4 linked regions of the Homo sapiens genome follow. The protein of the gene in region 2 purifies or fractionates together with the protein of the main gene of each other region. This does not show direct contact. Each region holds a gene or a part of one and is shown on either strand. Other genes may lie near its edges.

What was found. Proteins that work in one complex are often made in the same cells at the same time.
Region 1: the proteins of PDHX (region 2) and NCAPD3 purify together in Homo sapiens (co-immunoprecipitation; one large-scale study listed by IntAct). This does not show direct contact.
Region 3: the proteins of PDHX (region 2) and HSD17B4 fractionate together in Homo sapiens (co-fractionation; one large-scale study listed by BioGRID). This does not show direct contact.
Region 4: the proteins of PDHX (region 2) and HMGCL purify together in Homo sapiens (co-immunoprecipitation; one large-scale study listed by IntAct). This does not show direct contact.

The regions. Positions count from the first base shown.
Region 1 is NC_000011.10:134,160,396-134,164,967, reverse strand, and holds part of NCAPD3 (condensin-2 complex subunit D3), read left to right. Parts: intron 1-3,076; coding exon 3,077-3,187; intron 3,188-4,572.
Region 2 is NC_000011.10:34,992,191-34,997,834, reverse strand, and holds the end of PDHX (pyruvate dehydrogenase protein X component, mitochondrial isoform 1 precursor), read right to left. Parts: intron 5,521-5,644; coding exon 5,456-5,520; intron 2,922-5,455; coding exon 2,663-2,921; 3' UTR 1,707-2,662; downstream 1-1,706.
Region 3 is NC_000005.10:119,525,497-119,530,068, reverse strand, and holds part of HSD17B4 (peroxisomal multifunctional enzyme type 2), read right to left. Parts: intron 4,153-4,572; coding exon 4,046-4,152; intron 2,937-4,045; coding exon 2,850-2,936; intron 176-2,849; coding exon 89-175; intron 1-88. UniProt on the Homo sapiens protein: Bifunctional enzyme acting on the peroxisomal fatty acid beta-oxidation pathway.
Region 4 is NC_000001.11:23,800,358-23,804,929, reverse strand, and holds the end of HMGCL (hydroxymethylglutaryl-CoA lyase, mitochondrial isoform 1 precursor), read left to right. Parts: intron 1-404; coding exon 405-530; intron 531-2,365; coding exon 2,366-2,467; 3' UTR 2,468-3,045; downstream 3,046-4,572. UniProt on the Homo sapiens protein: Mitochondrial 3-hydroxy-3-methylglutaryl-CoA lyase that catalyzes a cation-dependent cleavage of (S)-3-hydroxy-3-methylglutaryl-CoA into acetyl-CoA and acetoacetate, a key step in ketogenesis. Terminal step in leucine catabolism.

The DNA of each region.
Region 1 (4,572 bases), about 99 Mb from region 2:
CTAAGCTTATGTCACAAGTGAGTGTGCCCCTCCCCCTAAGCTCATCTCACAAGTGAGTGTGCAGCTCCCCCTAAGCTCATGTCACAAGTGAGTATGTAGCTCCCTCAAGCTCATGTCACACGTGAGTGTTCAGCTCCCCTAAGGTCATTTCATGAGTGTGAAGTTCCCCTAAGTTCATTTCACGAGTGTGCAGCTCCCCCAAGCTCATGTCACAAGTGAGTGTGAAGCTCCCTAAACTCATGTCGCAAGTGAGTGTACAGCTCCCCTAAGCTTATTTTACAAGTGAGTGTGCAGCTCCCCCAAGCTCATGTCACAAGTGATTATGCGGCTCCCTCAAGCTCATGTCACAAGTGAGTGTGCAGCTCCCCTAAGCTCATGTCACAAGTGAGTGTGCAGCTCCCCTAAGCTCATTTCACAAGTGAGTGTCCCACTCTTCTCACCATCTACTGGCTTCCGTGTTCTCCCTGGAATCCTGGTGCCATGCTCTGGTGCTGACTTCTTTCTTACTGATGGCTTTAACTCTTGCCAGATGGTGACAATTCTCAAACCTGTTTCCCACTCCAGCATTTCTCATGAGCCTGAGCTCAGGTCCCCCTGCTGCCAGGACGTGCTCCGGGTGTCTCTGACTTACTCTGTCAAAACTCCCTCAGTCATCTCTTCTTTCTGCTCTTCATCTCCTCTTTCTCCCACAGTTTATGGTGCTCTTGCAGACTGGAGTCTGGTGTGTCAGGCTGAGGCTTTTGTTGGCAGGAAGTGTAGAATTTGGATCTGAATGACTGGGGCAGAGCTTGGCTGCCACAGGCCTCTGCAGGCCTGTGTTTTCCTCCTAGCCTGGATTGCCAATGTGTATTTCCCACCTGGCCTCTGGAGGCTTTTGACTCCAAGGATATAGACTCTGATCATATCTTGCCACAAGATCCTGCCTGTTTTCTCTTACCAATCTATCTCTCTAGTTCTGACCTTATTTAAGCTTATCCCATTTCCATGGTTTCCTTACCACCCTTTCTGTTTCTGGTTTCTTTCTGTCACAGGCCATGTACCACCTTGCTGCCAGAGCAGTCTTTCTTTCTTTTTCTTTTTTTTTTTTTTTTTTTTTGAGACAGAATCTCACTGCGTCGCCCAGGCTGGAGTGCAGTGGCGCGATCTCAGCTCACTGCAAGCTCCGCCTCCCAGGTTCACGCCATTCTCCTGCCTCAGCCTCCCGAGTAGCTGGGACTACAGGCCCCTGCCACTGTGCCTGGCTAACTTTTTTTTTTTTTTTTTTTTTGAGACACAGTATCACACTGTTGCCCAGGCTGGAGTGCAGTGGTACGATCTCTGCTCAGTGCAAGCTCTGCCCCCCTGGGTTCATGCCATTCTCCTGCCTCAGCCTCCCTAGTAGCTGGGACTACAGGCACCAGCCACCACGGCCGGCTAGTTTTTTTGTATTTTTAGTAGAGATGGGGTTTCACAGTGTTTGCCAGGATGGTCTCAATCTCCTGATCTCGTGATCTGCCCGCCTCGGCCTTCCAAAGTGCTGGGATTACAGGCATGAGCCACCACACCCAGCCCAGCAGTCTTTCTTAAGTACAAATTTGATCATTTTATTATATCTGAAACAGACTAAAGGCAGGTTGACTGTGAGGGGTGGCAGGAAGCTTTTGGGTGATAGATGGTGAGTGGTCTGTAGTGCTGGTTATTCCATATAGACTTTTGTCAAAGCTCATGGAAGTGTTTGTTTAAAATGGGTAAATTTATTACATATGTTATACTTCACTAGTGAAATCTTTAAAAACTATGCTGGTGGCTTCCTGTCATCTTCTGAATAAACCCTGATTCTTCTTTTTCAAGGTAAACAAGAACTTCTGGTGTGCCTTCCACCTTTCCCATACCTCCCTCCATCCTCACCTCTAACCTCTCCACTTCAAATTGCCATCTGCACCTCAGTTGCGAGCTGCCCCCTACTCGTGTGCTCTTGCCTCTGGGTCTAAAGTCTGCAGCGCCCTCACCCACCCATCCTCCCTTCTCCACACATCCTCAGGATCATCCATCAGATGGCCATGCACTCCTTAGGCATCCCATCTCCATACCTAAATTCCCTAACACCCTGCCACTTAACACCTCTTCCCTTGAGACACACACTTTCTAGAAGTGGCTGGAGGGCAGGGATGCTTAGCTTCATTTTGCATCCTCAGAGGGTTAGCTCTTTGCCTGGACAGAGAAGGTGCTTGATAATACTTGTCAAGTGAATGCATGGAAGCCACTTCTTAAGACTATTCCTGAACATAACATCTGCTCACATCTGGGTTTATTAAATTGCTTATTTCTCTACTTGTTGTCCTTCTGTTTCAGGAACTCTGATAAGACTTTTTAGAAATGAGTAGTTTACAAGGAAGAAACATACACTAGTGACTTTAAATGAGAAGGAAAAGAGTAGTTTCAGCTTCAGGAGGATAAATCTTGCATATGTGGGCTACTATAGTGCTTTTTTTTTAATTTAAAGAGATTCACTGGAGAATATTTGTGGTTAGTGATCATTCAAGGTAAAGTGTGAAGACTTGGTCAAATCAGGTACTATATATATAAATTCATAGTATTTTGTAGATGTGTACACAGAGAGAGAGACAGAGCTGGCTGTCTTCATGCTTAGCCATTTTTAGACCATTGTCCCTTCACCAGCAGGAATACGAAGTGTCCCTCTGGGTAGCCAGAACGAGCTGACTTCTGTTCCAAGGGGAGGGTGTTGAATTGAGGACTGAAGGTGGAGCAAGAGCCAAGGTCCCTCAGGGTCTTCTGTGGAGATTTGGGGCTTTTGTCAAAAGCTACTCAACATGTTTCTAATTCTTTTTCCCCATTTAGAATATATGAGTAGTATTTGTCCCCACCCTATCTTACAAAGCCTTCAGAGTGTTTTGAGGTAATGCTTACAAAGTCTCCCAGAGAAAAGCAGAGGTCCTCTACATCCAGTATCATAATGAAAAGCAAAAATAAACTTACATAGTGTGGTAGGGTGGCTCTACTCAAAGAACTAGATCAAGGAGAGGCCTGTCTTTCAGAAGTTCATACATCTAAAACATGTCTTTGTTTGTGTTACCAGGTTCAGAAGAGGAATTTCATAGAAAATATTATTCCAATTATCATCTCCCTGAAGACTGTGCTGGAGAAAAATAAGATCCCAGCTTTGCGGGAACTCATGCACTATCTCAGGGTAAGGGTGGAGCCTGTGCTTTTGTGGTTGTTGTCCTACCAGTTCATTACTTAGGATCTTCTGCCAGTTATGACAGTGCAGGCAATCCGTGAATGATTAGAACCCCAAATTCTGCAAACCCAACATTACCTTGGTAACTGCTGTGGAGCTAGGGGTTGGCTGTGGGTTCCACCAAAGCCGCTCTTTCCCTTGGATGTGCAGCCAGGGCCGTGAAGAGCCGGCCCACTGTGCCAAGCACGTCTTCCCTTAATGGAGTTCAAGTCCATCTGGAAAACTTTCCCAGCTGGGGTCAAGAACACAGTCATCTTCGTTCATGCTGCTTGGGGGTAAGGTGAAAGTGAGTCTTCGGGTTTGATTTCAGGGTGCTTACCTTTTGCACTGACTCAGATTCACAAGGTCAGGAAATAACTGCCCTGCAGGAGCTGCCTTCGGAGCTGCCATCACCAGGCTGAATTCTTTGTCAAGCAAGGGGACCATGAGGAGCTCAGTCGGAGCAAACCCAGGATGTGTTGACTTGCAGGGCGGACCTAAGTGGGGCCTCAGACCTTTCTTGCAAAATCTTTTACTAAGAAATAAATGCAACATAGTTTTTCTTTAATTCAGCAGTTATAGCTCTGTTCACATTATGTGTTTTTCTTCCTCAAAAAAATGCTACAATTTTTTTTCCAATAAAGGCCTCAACAAAAATTACATTGAATATAAATTTTCAAATAGCTTTTTATACTAGGAAGCCAAGGTAGGAAAGATAGTCTCATTGTATGATAAAAATAAAAACTTCCAAATATTCTTGTATTTATTGCCTGACTTTAGACCCTAGAAAGGAAAAAAAAAAACAAAAACAGAGCTTTGATCCTACATAGACTACTTAAACACTTAAGAAAAATAAGCCTTCCTCCTGCTTGTGAGCACACACACAGGATGGCCACACGTTGCTTGTTGTCAGTAGCTTGAGGGAGTCTCTTCATTGGCCTGTGGAACCCACTCCTAGTGGCAGCTGGAAAAGTGCATGGATTCCTTCTCTTTGTTGAGACTTCCCTCCCAGTTGGAACTGCAGTGTCTTTTTCTCCCTATTACTGTTAGGTGGAATGATTCTTTCTCTTAGCAAAGTGGTCTTGCCCCTGGCACCCCTCTTTAAGACCTAAGAATGTTTTTCCCTAGGTATGAGAAAAGGTTTTCTGTAAAATCTTCAGAAGAAGACACAAAGATGGGATTTGAGCCTTAGTTGGAATCCCCTGAGAGCCAATGGGGAGGCTAATGTAGACAGATGAGCAGCTTTTAGATCCATGCATCCTGGGACTTGCTCCAGAGGCTGTGTCTGAGCATGTCTTTCTCCCATTGGGAACCTGGGAGAGATTGCCCATTAACTGCCACATAGCCAGGATGCT
Region 2 (5,644 bases):
ACTCTGGCCAGTCGTATACCAATGACTTAAATTTAGCACAAAATAGTGAATGTAACTAAAAATTGCAATCAGCGAGCAGAGCCAGTTTGACTTATAAATTCTAATATTCATTGATATTTTCACATCCAAGTGTTAACTGGAATGTGTGTTGCCTTTTCCTTAGAAGTACTCCCAATATTTTGGTCATTTTTTCTGTTCAAACAAGAAACAAAAATGAAGAGGCAGAAATTTTTTTTATATCCTCTCAGTGTGATACCTATCTATTTTAAATAAATTAGTAGTATAATGTGGAAGGGGCCTGGTAGTGTAGCACACAGTTCAAACCAAGTATACCATACTCCTTTCTCAGTGTTATTCTTTGATCTCAAACTACAACAAAATTCTTTTTAGAAATGAAAACTTCCTTAATCTAAACCACCTCATCAGTATAGAAATACCAGAGACAATATTTTTGGTCAGAATGAACAAGCATTTGTACCAGAAGCTGAGAAGTCAAACCATGAGAGGCAGGTGATTATATGAAAAGCCTGGTTGTGAGGTCCATGAATTAAAACATCTTAAATTTATACAGCGATTTCCCTTGTACAGTTCAACTCTCTAAGGCAGGCTGAGTAAATATTAATGCCCATTTCACCTATAGGGAAACAGATGCACTACTGCTTATGTACGTCAGTTCATGAAAAGCAGAACTCTGAGTCAGGCTTATTTATGGCTGCCTCATCATGTTCTGTTCCTCAGATATAAAAATTAAAATGAACAAACAAACAACAACCACAACAAAAACAACGGCCTAGCACAGTAGCTCATGCCTGTGTAATCCCAGCACTTTGCGAGGCCAAGGTGGGTCGACTACTTGAGCCCAGGAGTTTGGGACCAGCCTGAGCAACATGGCAAGACCCTGTCTCTAAAAAAAAAAAATAGAAAAATTAGCCAGGCATGATGGTGCATGCCTTTAGTCCTTAGCTACTCGGGAGGCTGAGGGAGGAGGATCACTTGAGCCTAGGAGGTCGAGGTTGCAGTGATCTGTGATCCCAGCACTGCACTACAGCCTGGGCCACAGAGCAAGACCCCATCTCAAGAAAAAGTAGTAATAATAATAATAATTTCGATTAAAACTGACCTTGGAAATAATGTAACATAAAAATTATTTTGAAAATAGCCTTTGGTTATAATTTTCAGTGTAACTGTTAATATGACAAAAGTTTTGAAGACTATTTTTTTTAAATGGCTTGTTAAACTGAGTTGGATAGTTGGATTAAGCATTTTCTTAACAATTAATACACCAGGGTGCTAATTATTTTAGAAGGCTCTTCTGTTAGGGTTTATAATTCATCATGTCATACCATACAACTTGTACTATATTAGCCTTTCTTCTATTGATTCATGTCAGCTGACACTAACATAAACCTTTTTGTGACAAGTTAATTAAATTACCATTCATTACCATCCAACTTAAATATAGTTATCTTGACAGTTATAGCAGAGCTGCCAAAAGAGAGAAACAAACTCTTCTAAACTTTATAATAATTAGTGAAAATTTCATATTAGTGAAATAAAAAGGATAGTTCTCATCTGTTTGGCTTCATAAGTCTTCTATTCTCTTTCCAAAGTTTTACATTTCCTATCAGTTACTTTCCTAATGTCATACTAATTTTAAATTCCGTCTTTTCTCCTGTAGAGCCCTTTTAAAGGTGTTCTAGAAAAACTACTAATCAACTTCAAGGTTTATTGAACTTTTGTGTTTTAACATTTAAAATACAATAGAAATGTTTATATTTTCTCACATTTTACTGCACAATACAAAACTGATTTAAATGCATTAAGAAACAACATTTTGTTTTTAAATAAACACTAACAAAATGTTTGGCAAGAGATAACACAATTTATTTAAATATATTCCGACTCAAGATGAAGGCAAGCGGTTTACCTAGAAAGGTTTACATATTTTAGCTATAGTTTTTCATTGAACCATTTTTTTGAAATGTCATTCTTTTCATTCATGCTTCTTTTATCCTCTTGCTTTAGAAGTTCACAGTGTTATATAAGTGAAAAACAAGACAGATAGAAACCACCCTAAACATATGGCTTTATGTACATAAAAAATTCAATAATGTTGCCATAACCCCTAATACAGTGTGATCCTTATTTATTTATTATCCAGAATAAACTTCTGTACCTATTAAATTCTTCAAGTATATCTAGAGCAGTGCTTGTAAAAGTGAGGTCCCACTGCTAAGTTAATGGCCATCTCTTTGAAGATCACTTCTACCTTCAACATAATTATGGTACAGTTCTAATAGTTTTTTTAATTTTACATGTATCATACATTCTCAAATATTCCAAAATGCTCAAATGAGCCAAACATATACTTTGATTTACATCTAGTTTAATATTCCCTTTATACAGCACCAGAGGTTAAAAATGGATCTGAGTAACCAAATATTCTCTTTCCTTTATTAGTTAGAGTTTATCATCATTTATTTCTATAACATTAAACCCAAATTGAAGATGAAGACACCCTGGGTCAAATGCTTTCACCTTAAATAAATAAACATTTCATCCACTTCATACTTAAATACCAAGTTGTTTTCCTATAACATATGTTTCTTGGTAACAACTACTGAATCAACTAAGCTGAACACCAACTTCTTATCTTTGAGGACTAGGCAAGTCGGATAGGATTCTCTAGGTTTGCTTTAAAACTTTTAAGAAACCTGGTTGCCAGTTCGTCATCAACCACTCGACTGTCACTTGACATTGTGACTGTTATGAGCTGGCGCTGCTGCAGTTTGGCATTTCCCTCTTCATCCTCAGTGAGCTTCAGCACAGGTCGGAACCTCCCAACCGCCAAAATGCAGGCCTGAGGAGGGTTAATCACTGCAGTAAATTCGTCGATGCCAAACATCCCCAAGTTGGAAATACTAGGGGGAAAAGAAAAAGCTCTGAAGGAGGCATGTCCTTAATCAAAGTCCCCTTTCCGTGAAGCACATATTTTATATATTTTACTAGGCAGTGTAGTAAGGCAAGAAAAAAATATATGAGTAATGAAAAAAGGAAACATTTAGTATTTACAAATAAATTAATTGTGTACACAGGAAAAATGAGACTATAGATAACTAGTAAAATTAATAAGTAAATTTAGTTAAGTCATCAGATAAAAGGTCAATATAACAATCCATTTTATATCGAGTCATGTCCCACATAACGAAGGATCACATATACAACGGTGGTCTTATAAGATTATAATGGAGCTCAGGAATTTCTGCTGCCTAGTGGCATCATAGCTGTCATAACATCATATTGCAATTACTTTATTTTAAAAATAAATTTAGTGTAGCCTAAGTGTGCAGTGTTTATAAAGTCTACAGTAGTGTATAGTGATGTCCTAAGCATTCACTCATTCACTGATTCTTCCAGAGCAACTTCTAGTCTTGCAAGCTCCATTCACGGTAAGTGCCCTAAACAGGTGTACCATGTTTTACTTTTTACATTTTTACTGTACATTTTAAAAATGCTTAGATATGTTTAGATACCCAAATACTCATCATTGTGTCACAACTGCTTACGGTATTCAGTAGAGTAACATGCTGTATAGGTTTGCAGTCTAGGAGCAACTGGCTATATCATACAGCTAAGGTGTGTAGCAGCATGTACCATTTAGGTTTGTGTAAGTACACTCTATGATGTTTGCATGATTTGCGTAAGTACACTCTATGATGTTTGCATGATGAAACTGCCTAACAATGCATTTCTCATATCCCCATCATAAAGTGGCACATGACTCTACATACAAGTTGCTATAATTAGAAAATAAAAATTTAAAACAATACCATTTATAATAGTATCAAAAAACAAATACCAAAGAATAAATCTAATGAAACATATACAAGACCTCTACACAGAAAATTATAAAACATAACTGAAAGAAATCAAATAACTGAATACACAATGGTTTCTACCATATTCACAGGTTAGAATACTCAATACTGTAAGGATGTCAATTCTCAAATCATCAAAAGACTTAATGCAATCCCAATCAAGAAACCAGCAAGGGGTGTGTGTGTGAAAAATGGCAAATCAATTTTACAATTTATTTGGAAATACGAAAAGCCAGAAGACAATCTTGAGGGTGAACAAAATTGGAAGACTTCATTACCAGCTATCAAGAGTTATAGCTTGGTGGTAGTAAACAAAGGATAGACAAACAGGCCAGTGGAAAAAAAATAGCACAGAACTAGACCAACACATATATAATCACCTTTTCAATGCTATGAAAAAGGAGAAATCAATATTCAATACATGATGCTGTGTAAATTTAGTATCCATATGGGGAAAAAAGAGCACTTGAAACTTCACATTATATACAAAATCCAATTTCAGTTGAATTGTGATCTACATGTGAAAAGTAACGTAAATGCTTTTAGAAGATAACACAGAAGAGTAACTTCATGACTCTGAGATAGGCAAAAATTCCTAACAGAAAATGAACAGTACCAACTACAAAGAAAAATACTGATAAATAGGAATTCATTAAAACTCAGAACTTCCGTTCATTTAAAAAAATCACCGAGAGAGTCCCAAAGGCAAGTCACAGAGTGTGAAAGCTATTTGAAACAATATATATCCTATAAAGGTCTGTATATCCAGAAATAAGAACTATACATCATTTTTTTAAATGGACACCAGATTGCAGTGGGTACTTTATCTCATGAATTACCAGATACCCAAACGGCTGATGAGTGAAAAGTACTCAACATCACTAATTTGCATTTTCCTACAAAGAGTACCACTACACACCCCAAGAATTGTTAAAATTTAAAACCTAACATTATTAAATAGTGGCAAGAATGTGGAGCAATGGGAATTCTCAGGACCGTTGGTGGAGGTGTAAATTTGTATAACCATTTGGAAAATTGTTTGGTAGTAGCTGCTAAAGCTTCTAACTTAGGAATTCTACTTTTAGGTCTATACAACAAAAAATGTACATACATTCACTATAAGACACTAATAAGAATGTTCATAGCACCATAATTTGTAATAGCCCCGAACTGGAAGCAACGCAAATGCCCACCAACAGTAAAATGAATTCTGGTATATTTATACAATAGAATATTATATGCTGCAATAATAAATAAGTGGTTGTTTCACATAGCAATATAATATTACAGACATTAATATTGGGGGTGGGTCAGATACTAAAGAATACATAATATTTATCATTCCATGTTAGTCAATGTCCAACGAACGTTTAGTTCAACACTAATAGGTTCCTACTAGCTTTAATATGAAAGCCTGACTAGTCTGAAGAATTTTTTCAGATATTCTATTGTCTAAATAAAGTATTTTTAGCTTAAATTTTAAAAAATATTTCAGATAAATGAAAGGCTGACAGGGACTTTATAAGTCTTACATCTATCTGTTTGATGCTATGGATAATTAAGAGTTTAAATTTTACCTAAAAGATCCTCCTTGGTATTCTTCAGGCAACAATTTTCCATCTCTTGCTTTCTTTGATAGAGCCTGAGAAAAATACAAACAGAATAGGACAACCAACAAAATGTTATACAGTTGATCTTGTCACTTGAAATATTTGTACATCATATACTCTCATCTCTGATATGCCTTGATTTGATTTTGTTACCTA
Region 3 (4,572 bases), on a different chromosome or scaffold from region 2:
TTCTAACGTAGCCTAACCACTCTTAAAGTCACCTTAACTGAAATTCCTAAATGAGGAAGTGGCTTGGATACTAATTTTTATAACCTACCTCAGAGGGTGTCTTAGCTGAAGTACCAGATGTTGGTGCAAGATCCACATATGCATTTGAAATGACAATGTCTCCAGTTTCTTGGACCTTAGGAGGAGAAGAAAAAAAAAAGATTTATTCTGATTACAATGGAAGTGTAATTTCACTGTGAAACAGTACAAAGTTTAAAATTTATTATTTTTGCCTCATATGAAAAAGAATATAATAATCCAGATAAAATAAAAGGCTGCTAAAGTAAATGTCAAGATGAACAAACATAAAGGCTTTCTGATTTAATACAACTGTTACTAAACCTGGCTTTATAATCAGCTGGAGCCCTTTAAAACAAACAAACAAAGAAACCCTATGAGGTCCCATCCCCCAAAATTCTAATGTAAATACACTGATAGAGACTGGGCCTTGGTATTTTGGGCATTTTTTGGGGGGGAAGTGGGGATCAGGGGATGCACTCTTATAAACAGAATTCAGTCCATGCTGAATCCTTATAAATAGTAAAAGGCATAGCACAATAGCCACATGAGGTAATGGTACTCAAAGTACATTTGTTCTGCTAATATAGAATAAAATTGGCTAGGAACAAATCATAATAGTGTTTTTTAAGTAGTAATTCCAGGTCTTATTTCAAGAGGAAGTGTACACAGCATGAACTAAATGTCTAAATAGGCTTTTATCAAAATAGTCATTAAAGGAATTCAAATTCTAATTCCCAGTCCTTCATTTCAAATTATTCCAATGGCTATTCTTTCATAAAAATTGTTATTGCTACAAATGTATAGGATAAGTTTCTAAAGTTTAACATAGCGTTTATTAAAACTTTGATTTTTAACAATCAAGAAGATCATTCTCTTGACTACATCTCATCATATTTTGGAGGAAAAAAGATCTTTCAAGTAATTTGTTCACTTTACTTCAAATTACATACATTGAAAAGCATGGAAAGAGATAATTAATGAACAAAATGCACTTCAGTAAATTACTTTATTGTTACCAAATCAAGCAAATCATTTTAAAACACTGGTTTAAAATGTTTCTTATATCTTAAGAATAGAAAGGAAAGGAGGAAGGGAGGGAGAAAGTGAGAAAAGGAGGCAGGGAGAGAAGGAGTCCTAAAACTAATAGAAAAAGAATATCTATAATCACTGAAGAAAAATATAGCAAATATGCTGAAAAGATAAGACAGCATGCTTAGAATTTAACAAAATGGCAAGAATACATTATATTTAGACATTTAATCATTTCTCAGCCCTTCAAGTTTGTATCCATAGAAATTATTTACATACTATTCATCACCAGAATTGCAGGAAAATAAAAACCTGTAATATAGTCATGGTCCTTAACACTTTTAGAGTTCATAATCTTAATCAAAAAGCAAAACTTACTCATACAAAACAAATTAGAAAATGTGAGGGCTCCAAAATATGTGGCACAGATATTAGCTGCAAAGGCTTTCAGAGAACACCAATTTGAGTGTATCTATGGGTAGGAAAGTGGGGAATAGTAAGAGACTGTCTCTAAGAGCAAAGTGGAGCTTGAACTTAAGCCTGAAGGACAGGAGGAATTTGAAAAGTAAAATAAACAATATGTACAAATTAAGCAGGAAAATGATATTGCAACCAGCAGAAAGGAATTAGGAGTAAAGCAACCATGTAAGAAGAATTTTGCAGTTATCTATTTGTGAAAGAAAACATGATACAGAAAAGACATTTGGGGCCTGTAATCAAAGCTTTGAAGCCATGCTGATCGGGTTTCTATCCCAGCTCAACCACTTGCTGTGTGACCATGAGCAAGTTATTTAGGACACCTAGATTAGATTTTCTTAGGAACCTAGATTTTCTTATATTTACATACAGATTTATTATGCATATTAAAGAAAATACTATTGCCAGTTTATAGGTTCTCAATAAATGAAAGCTGTTCCTATTATCATTGGAGTTGTTTAATATGCTCTATATAGCATGAAATGATCAAGCCAAAAAGTATTAGCCTGGTCAACTGTGTTAACAAAAACTGTCTTTTAATAACTTGCAAATAAAACAATGATTGCATGTCCTTTTAGTATTTTACTGGAGCATTGCTAACAGCCTCACCCCAAAATAACCTCATTTACTATTTGTTAGGCCCAGACTCTGTGATGTAACTTGTTAATTTGTGGATTTTTTGTGTAATCAAGATGCATATGATTTCTGTCCAGAGAAAACTCATAAAGGATAAGATTTTATTGTTCTATAGGATATTAACTAATTTTGTCTCTAACTCTGCAAAATTATTTTAGAATAACTTTCCTATTGGACCATATAAACTGTTGTTCTAATTTTTTTTCGAACATGTTTTATCATATTGCAAGATCCTTCATTAATGAGTCAGATAGATTTCTGTCATGTTTTCACTGTATATCTGTCTGAGTCATGCCTTTAAATTTTTTAAGATGATATTTTGACAATGACTTGATTGACTAGTTGAGCCAAAAAGACATGGTTGGCTGGGTTTTCAGAATAGCTGGGCCACTGCTACATAGATAGCTACCAATTTAGTTGAAAATAAAAGAGAAAATAAAACACAGGGTGCAAAACACTTCTATTTTATTAAGTGTTGCCTGATAAATAAAAATTTTGAAAACACCAGACAAGCTGTATCTTATTTTTAATTAAAATTTACCATTACTTAAAAAGAACTTTCTATCCATAGTACTAACCAAAAAAAAATGGTAAGATGGAACACAATGATAAAGCATGTGAGAAGGGTGAAAAAGCAAAATTCATACCTTGGTTTGAAAATGAATTCTGTTTCCTTCCTTCCACATCTCAGTTTGTAGAGTTTGTCCTGGATATACTGGTTTTGCAAAACGAGCCTTTAAAAAAGAATTGTGGGGTTAAAAATGTTTTAAAAGGAAACTCTTTTACTTGTAGGAGGAAAAAATTGGAAAGGAAACTAGAGAGCACAAAAGAAAAAAAAAATCAAGGTTTAAAGATATTTAAATTCATAAAAGACCTAAGTATAATATGATAAAATTAGTAAAATAAAGATGTAACTAATATAAGTAAGCCAATTCTTTGTCTTTCAAAGTATGGAATCAAAAAATAGTGTTTTTTATCTTGACAAATCAAGAAATAAAACCATAATCATATTAGGTGAGTTATATAGGTACATCAGAACAACTTAAAGAAACAGTTAAAAGTGGTACAAATTAAGTCTAAGGAATGAGGCCTGGGGTGAGTATGCAGGGCAAAATAATTCCACTTTTTATTTCATAATTTTTTATATTATTTTCTCTGTGTATATATTACTGGATAATAAAAAATAGTTGTAACAAAATGAAAAGCATGAGAGTAATTAGTGTTATCAAAGGCAATGCATCAGAAAATATATTTTCACTACTGCATGGAGGATAAATTAAAAGCTTTTGGAGCTATTTGACAACCCCTTAAACTTTTTTAAGTGTACATCTTTTGGCTTAAACATACACAAAAATAATATGGGCATGGATATTTTTCCTTGTTATTTATAATGGATAAAAATTTGAAATCAACTAAAAAGTACAGAGTTAAAACAATATGCAGTCATTATATTGCTGTAGATGTATGTTTATTGGACTTAATCAGCCACTTAACATTTTTAATTAAATTAATGAAAATGATAAAACAGTTAAAAAAAGCAAATCTTGAGTTTTCAAGGCATACGTACTGATATATATATATATAATATATGCACCTAATTAATTTATAAAGCAACCCAGTTAATCTGTCAAAATTGCAACTGTGCATCCTTCCTGGTGCATGTGCAACAGAGCTATTTATAGCTACAAAAAGAAAGTGTGCTGATTGCCAGGTCAATGAAATAATAAAAATGTACATTGCTGTAGTACAATATCTATTTTCAATTAAATCACTAAAACCCCTTTTCTTCTCTAAAGATAGAAAAAGGAAGTAATATTCAAATTACGTAGTAATACACATTTACCTTAATTGCCTTGAATCTTGACACATCATTATCTGCAAACTGCTGTAACACACGCCTGGCAGAAAATCCAAATGTACATAATCCATGTAATATGGGCTTGTCAAAACCTAGGAAAAGAGAGAACACTGAGTTAGATACAGGTACCTTTAAAGTTTAAAAATCAAGTGTAGTTAATTCAGGACTTTAAAAATGTCCTTAGACTGCATTAGCAGGAATTATACCATCTATTTTAAGAAACACAGTAGATATTTTTTAAAGAGTATTTCCTGGGAGGAAATTATGAAATAAAGAAAGAAAGAAAAAAAAAAAACAAAACAGGAAAAGAATGTGAGAGATCTGGAAACACAATTGTTTTGTTTAGTTTTGGTTGTAACCATGAAATCATCCAGGGTACTCTCAACATCCACACAGGTACATGATCCTTCCCTAACCTTTCAGTTCCTTGCTCTCTCTCCAATGACCTTGTCCTTTGTGATAACTCACACACCCACCCTCGTGGTCCTATCCTAGACCTCGCACTAGCGGGA
Region 4 (4,572 bases), on a different chromosome or scaffold from region 2:
CCCTGACTGAGTGAGAGTAGCCTGGAGGTGGTGGGGGGTAAGTGGGGGGGGGGTAATAAATGAATCACAGTAAACAACAGGGGTCTGAAATCTCAGCAGTGGGAGGGGGTTAGGCTGGTGATCAGAAAAGGTCTCCCTGAGCAGGTGGCTTTCAGACTGGAACCTAAAGAATGAGAGTTCACCATGAAAGGAAAGATACTGCTGGCAGAGGAAACAGTTTAACAGAAACTAAAAGGAGAAGCACTGTCTCTTTCTGTGGGATTGTCATGTCAACAGAATCATAAGCCAAAGCAAAGAATGACTCTAGAATTTCAGGCAACAGACGATTGGGAGGTTTGCAAGGCTCATCTCTGTGGCCTCTTGTCCCCAGCAACAACTGTGTTTCACCATCCTTATGTTTCTAGATGGGAGTGAGTGTCGTGGACTCTTCTGTGGCAGGACTTGGAGGCTGTCCCTACGCACAGGGGGCATCAGGAAACTTGGCCACAGAAGACCTGGTCTACATGCTAGAGGGCTTGGGCATTCACACGGTAAGCCCACCCACCCCCTGGTGGCGACAGCCCCGAACTGACCAGGGGGCCTGAAGCTGAGAACAAAAGTGGATGGGGGTATTTGGGGTTGTTAAGGTGCTGAGGAGTAAAGAGGGAAAGGGTTAGCCAGGCGCAGTGGCTCATGCCTGTAATCTCAGCACTTTGGGAGGCTGAGGCAGGAGGGTCACTTGAGCCCAGGAGTTTGAGGCTGCAGTGAGCTATGATCCTGCCAGTGTACTCCAGCCTGGGTGAAACAGCAAGACCCTATCTCTTCAAAACAAAACAAAAGAGGGGAAGGGTGTTGGGGATTATGGATATTTGATCTAATATTTTAATGTTTGTGAGAGTAGGGTTGAGTGAGGCCACACGCATGGGCATAAGAAGGCTGGAGTGTCAGGGTGACTTTGACAGTTCAGTCCTAGGAGACACCAGGAACATGGAAGGGGCCCTGGGAAGGGTCAGGTTCATGACCTGAAATGAGTCAGTTCTCTCTTGGCTTTGTTTTGTTCTCTGTAAAATGAGGACAGTAGCGTTAGACAGCTCACCAGGGATCCGCCAGAGTCCACCAGGGCCCTCAGTGGCGGGACGGAAGCAGAATAGCATCTGTGCTTAAAGATCAGATGGAACTGGGTTTAAAGCCTACTCCTGCCACTCCCAGGCTATGAGACCTCAGACAAATTATTTCATCTCTCTGAACCTAAGAAATGGGAATAATAATGCCATCCATCTCATGGAGCCATTGTGAGGATTAAGTAAGAAAACGTACGTAGAGGGCCAGGCGCACGCCTGTAATCCCAGCACTTTGGGAAGCCAAGGCGGGTGGATCACCTGAGGTCAAGAGTTTGAGACCAGCCTGGCCAATATGGTGAAACACTGTCTCCACTAACAATAGAAAAATTGCTGGGCACGGTGGCTCACGCCCGTAATCCCAGCACTTTGGGAGGCCAGGGTGGGCAGATCACCTGAGGTCAGGAGTTCGAGACCAGCTTGGCCGACATGGTGAAACCCCATCTCTACTAAAAATACAAAAATTAGCTGGGTGTGGTGGCACGCACCTGTAATCCCAGCTACTCGGGAGACTGAGGCAGGAGAATTGCTTGAACCCAGGAGTCAGAGGTTGCAGTGAGCCAAGATCACGCCACTGTACTCCAGCCTGGCGACACAGTGAGACTCCCTCTCAAAAAAAAGAAAAGAAAAATTAGCTGGGTGTGGTGGCACACACCTGTAACCCCAGCTACTCGGGAGGCTGAGGCAGGAGAATCACTTGAACCCGGGAGGCAGAGGTTGCAGTGAGCTGAGAGCGTGCCATTGCACTCCAGCCTGGGCGACAAGAGCAAACTCTGTCTCCAAAAAAAAAAAGAAAGAAAAGTTATGTAGAATGCTTATCACAGAGCTGAGCACAGAGTGCACTTCAGCAAATATGAGCTACTGTATGAACAGAGGGTTTCTGTCTGGCCCTTTCAGTTGGTGTTTTTATCCCTCCCTCTCTGCCTCACAATTGTCACTTGAATATCAGTTTTTTACCTCTGTGGGCCAGGCCCTGTGCTGGGCCCTGAAGAGGGAGTACTGAACAAGACTGATAAGATCTGTGCCCTGGTAGTGGCACTACAAACCATGACAGAGATTGGGCATCTTACATGAGGGGGAGTCAGAGGAATAACCCAGGTGCCAGACAGACAGGAGCTCACAGGCAGCTGGTGCCCCGCTGTCAAGGAAAAAGCCTGTTTATCTTCACCTTTACTTTTCAGTATCACAGTTGTCTGTCCATGCTGATGTTTTCCCTGGTGTTGAGGGCATACCATGACTTACCGCATCCTCTAACTTGTTTCTCAAAGGGTGTGAATCTCCAGAAGCTTCTGGAAGCTGGAAACTTTATCTGTCAAGCCCTGAACAGAAAAACTAGCTCCAAAGTGGCTCAGGCTACCTGTAAACTCTGAGCCCCTTGCCCACCTGAAGCCCTGGGGATGATGTGGAAATAGGGGCACACACAGATGATTCATGGATGGGGACATGGAAATGAGAATAGGTTAAATGGTGCAGGTACCTCATAGCCAGCTCTACACAGAGGTCTCTCCTGGCAGAAAGCAGGCGAAGGGCAGGAGGAGCTGCTTGGCAGAAGGACCTCCTGCCCAGACCTGAGGAGTGAGAGGCTTTGAGGGCTGAAGTCTCCCTTTGTTACGGACCCTGGCCCAGGAGTTGAATGCCTGAGGACGTGTGGGAACCCCGTTCCCTACTTAGCATGATCCTTGAGTCTCCTCTCTGGATGGAATCCGCGAGCTGGCCACCTGGCCACCCTCTACACGGCTCCACCCTGCCATGGCCGTGGGGCCCTTGCTCTCTGACTTCTCAGGACACAGGTCATGGAGGTTCTTCCCAAGCTGGCAGAGGCCATTTGTGGAAAGTGGAGAGCTACGTGGTGGCCGTCTGCCAACTCCAGCATCTCTGGAAAATCTCCACGCTGAATGTGATTTTTGAAAACAGCTTATGTAATTAAAGGTTGAATGGCACATCATAATTCCAGCATTCGGTTGTGCAGCTGTGTGTATACATGCGCGTGGGGGAGTAAAATACTTTACCATGTTGCACTCTGAGAGGAAAATGGAGACTATGAACTAGTTTATTAATCTTTGGATTTCCTCCCTGTTTCCCCACCTGAGCCCCAAATCCATAGTGACTGGAAATCAGTGGTTTTGGGCTTACTCAGGAGGCTGCTTGCGGCAGTTGCTGGCCAGAACACCCGACGGGGTTGTTTCTGAGCTTTGCCTCTGTGACTGGGGCTATTGCACAAGCTCCCCTGAGGACACACTTGCTGCTTTGGGCCTCGGTGGCCCGGCCTCTCCCTGGCGCTCCCGGGCCCGGGAGCGCTCACCTGTCGGTTCCCTGGACTCTGCGGGCAGGCGCTGGCTGATTCCCGGCTGCGCGGACACCTGTGCGCTCCTGCATTTAGGGCTCCTTTGCTCTGGTTTCATCACGCAGGATGTCACATTTTGTGCATATTATTCTCTAGCTCTACTACTTTTCATTGTAAACAAACAATCATTTTCTAACCTGCCGTCGTGGAAGGCAGAGTGCAGACCGACCCTTCCCGGCAGGTGGGGGCTGAGAGCCAAGAGCGCTGGAACCGCTAGTGTGGCCTGACAGCTTCCTCCAGCTCCTTGGTTTATTTGCAAACTGGACTTCCAGCACCAGGCCCCCTGCGACCCCCTCCTGCCTTAGTCCCGTGGGATCGGGTAGTTCAAGATTTTGAATTCATGGTTTGGCACACACCGGCAAGTCTGAAAACCTGCGGGTCAGAGTGGGGCGGAGGCGTGGGCCCCCTACCCTCTGCCCCCTGCCCCCTCGGAAGCGCAGCCCTCTTCCAGGGGTTGGGACGAGCTAGCGCGGGGACCCGGGGCACCGGCAAGGACCCACCCGCTACTGGGACCTGGCGCCGGCGGCGCCTCTCGCGGGGTGGCACCGCCCACTTCCGCCTTCCGCGGGCGCGCGCTGCGCAGTCTTCGTCACAGCGCGGAGGCCTTTTGTCCTCCCGCCCTCCCCGTAGTGGCCGTAACCCGAGTGACATGTTTCCTTGGGGGCGTGGAGGGGCGGGGTCGGGGCCGGAGTGGGCCGTCAGCACTTAAAGGGCCCGCGGCTCGGGCGTAGGAGGCGGTGCCTCTGCAGCAAGCGTGGGGCGCGGGAACCCGAGCAGGTTCGGGAGACGGAATGAAGGGCCGGGTGGGCTCGCGAGGGGCCGGGGAGTCCGCGGGGAGCGAGGGAGTTTCCGAGGGGCGGGTCGTGTTCCTGGCAGCGTCCCTCCAGGGCAGGCCCGCCCCCTTTGTCCCAGTTCCCCGCTGCCCGGGCTGGGGCGGCCGGGGTTCATTCATTGCCGGCCTGAGGACTCCTAGCTCGGCCCCGCTCCGCGCTACAGCCCAAAGCCCAGCCTGAGACCCAGCCGCCCTCGTATGCCCACGGCCTAGCTCCCCTTCCCTCCAACAGACAGACTGGGAAAACCGAGTGGGCGACGGCTGAGCAAGGTCACTCCGCTGTCGGGGGCGCAGCCGGC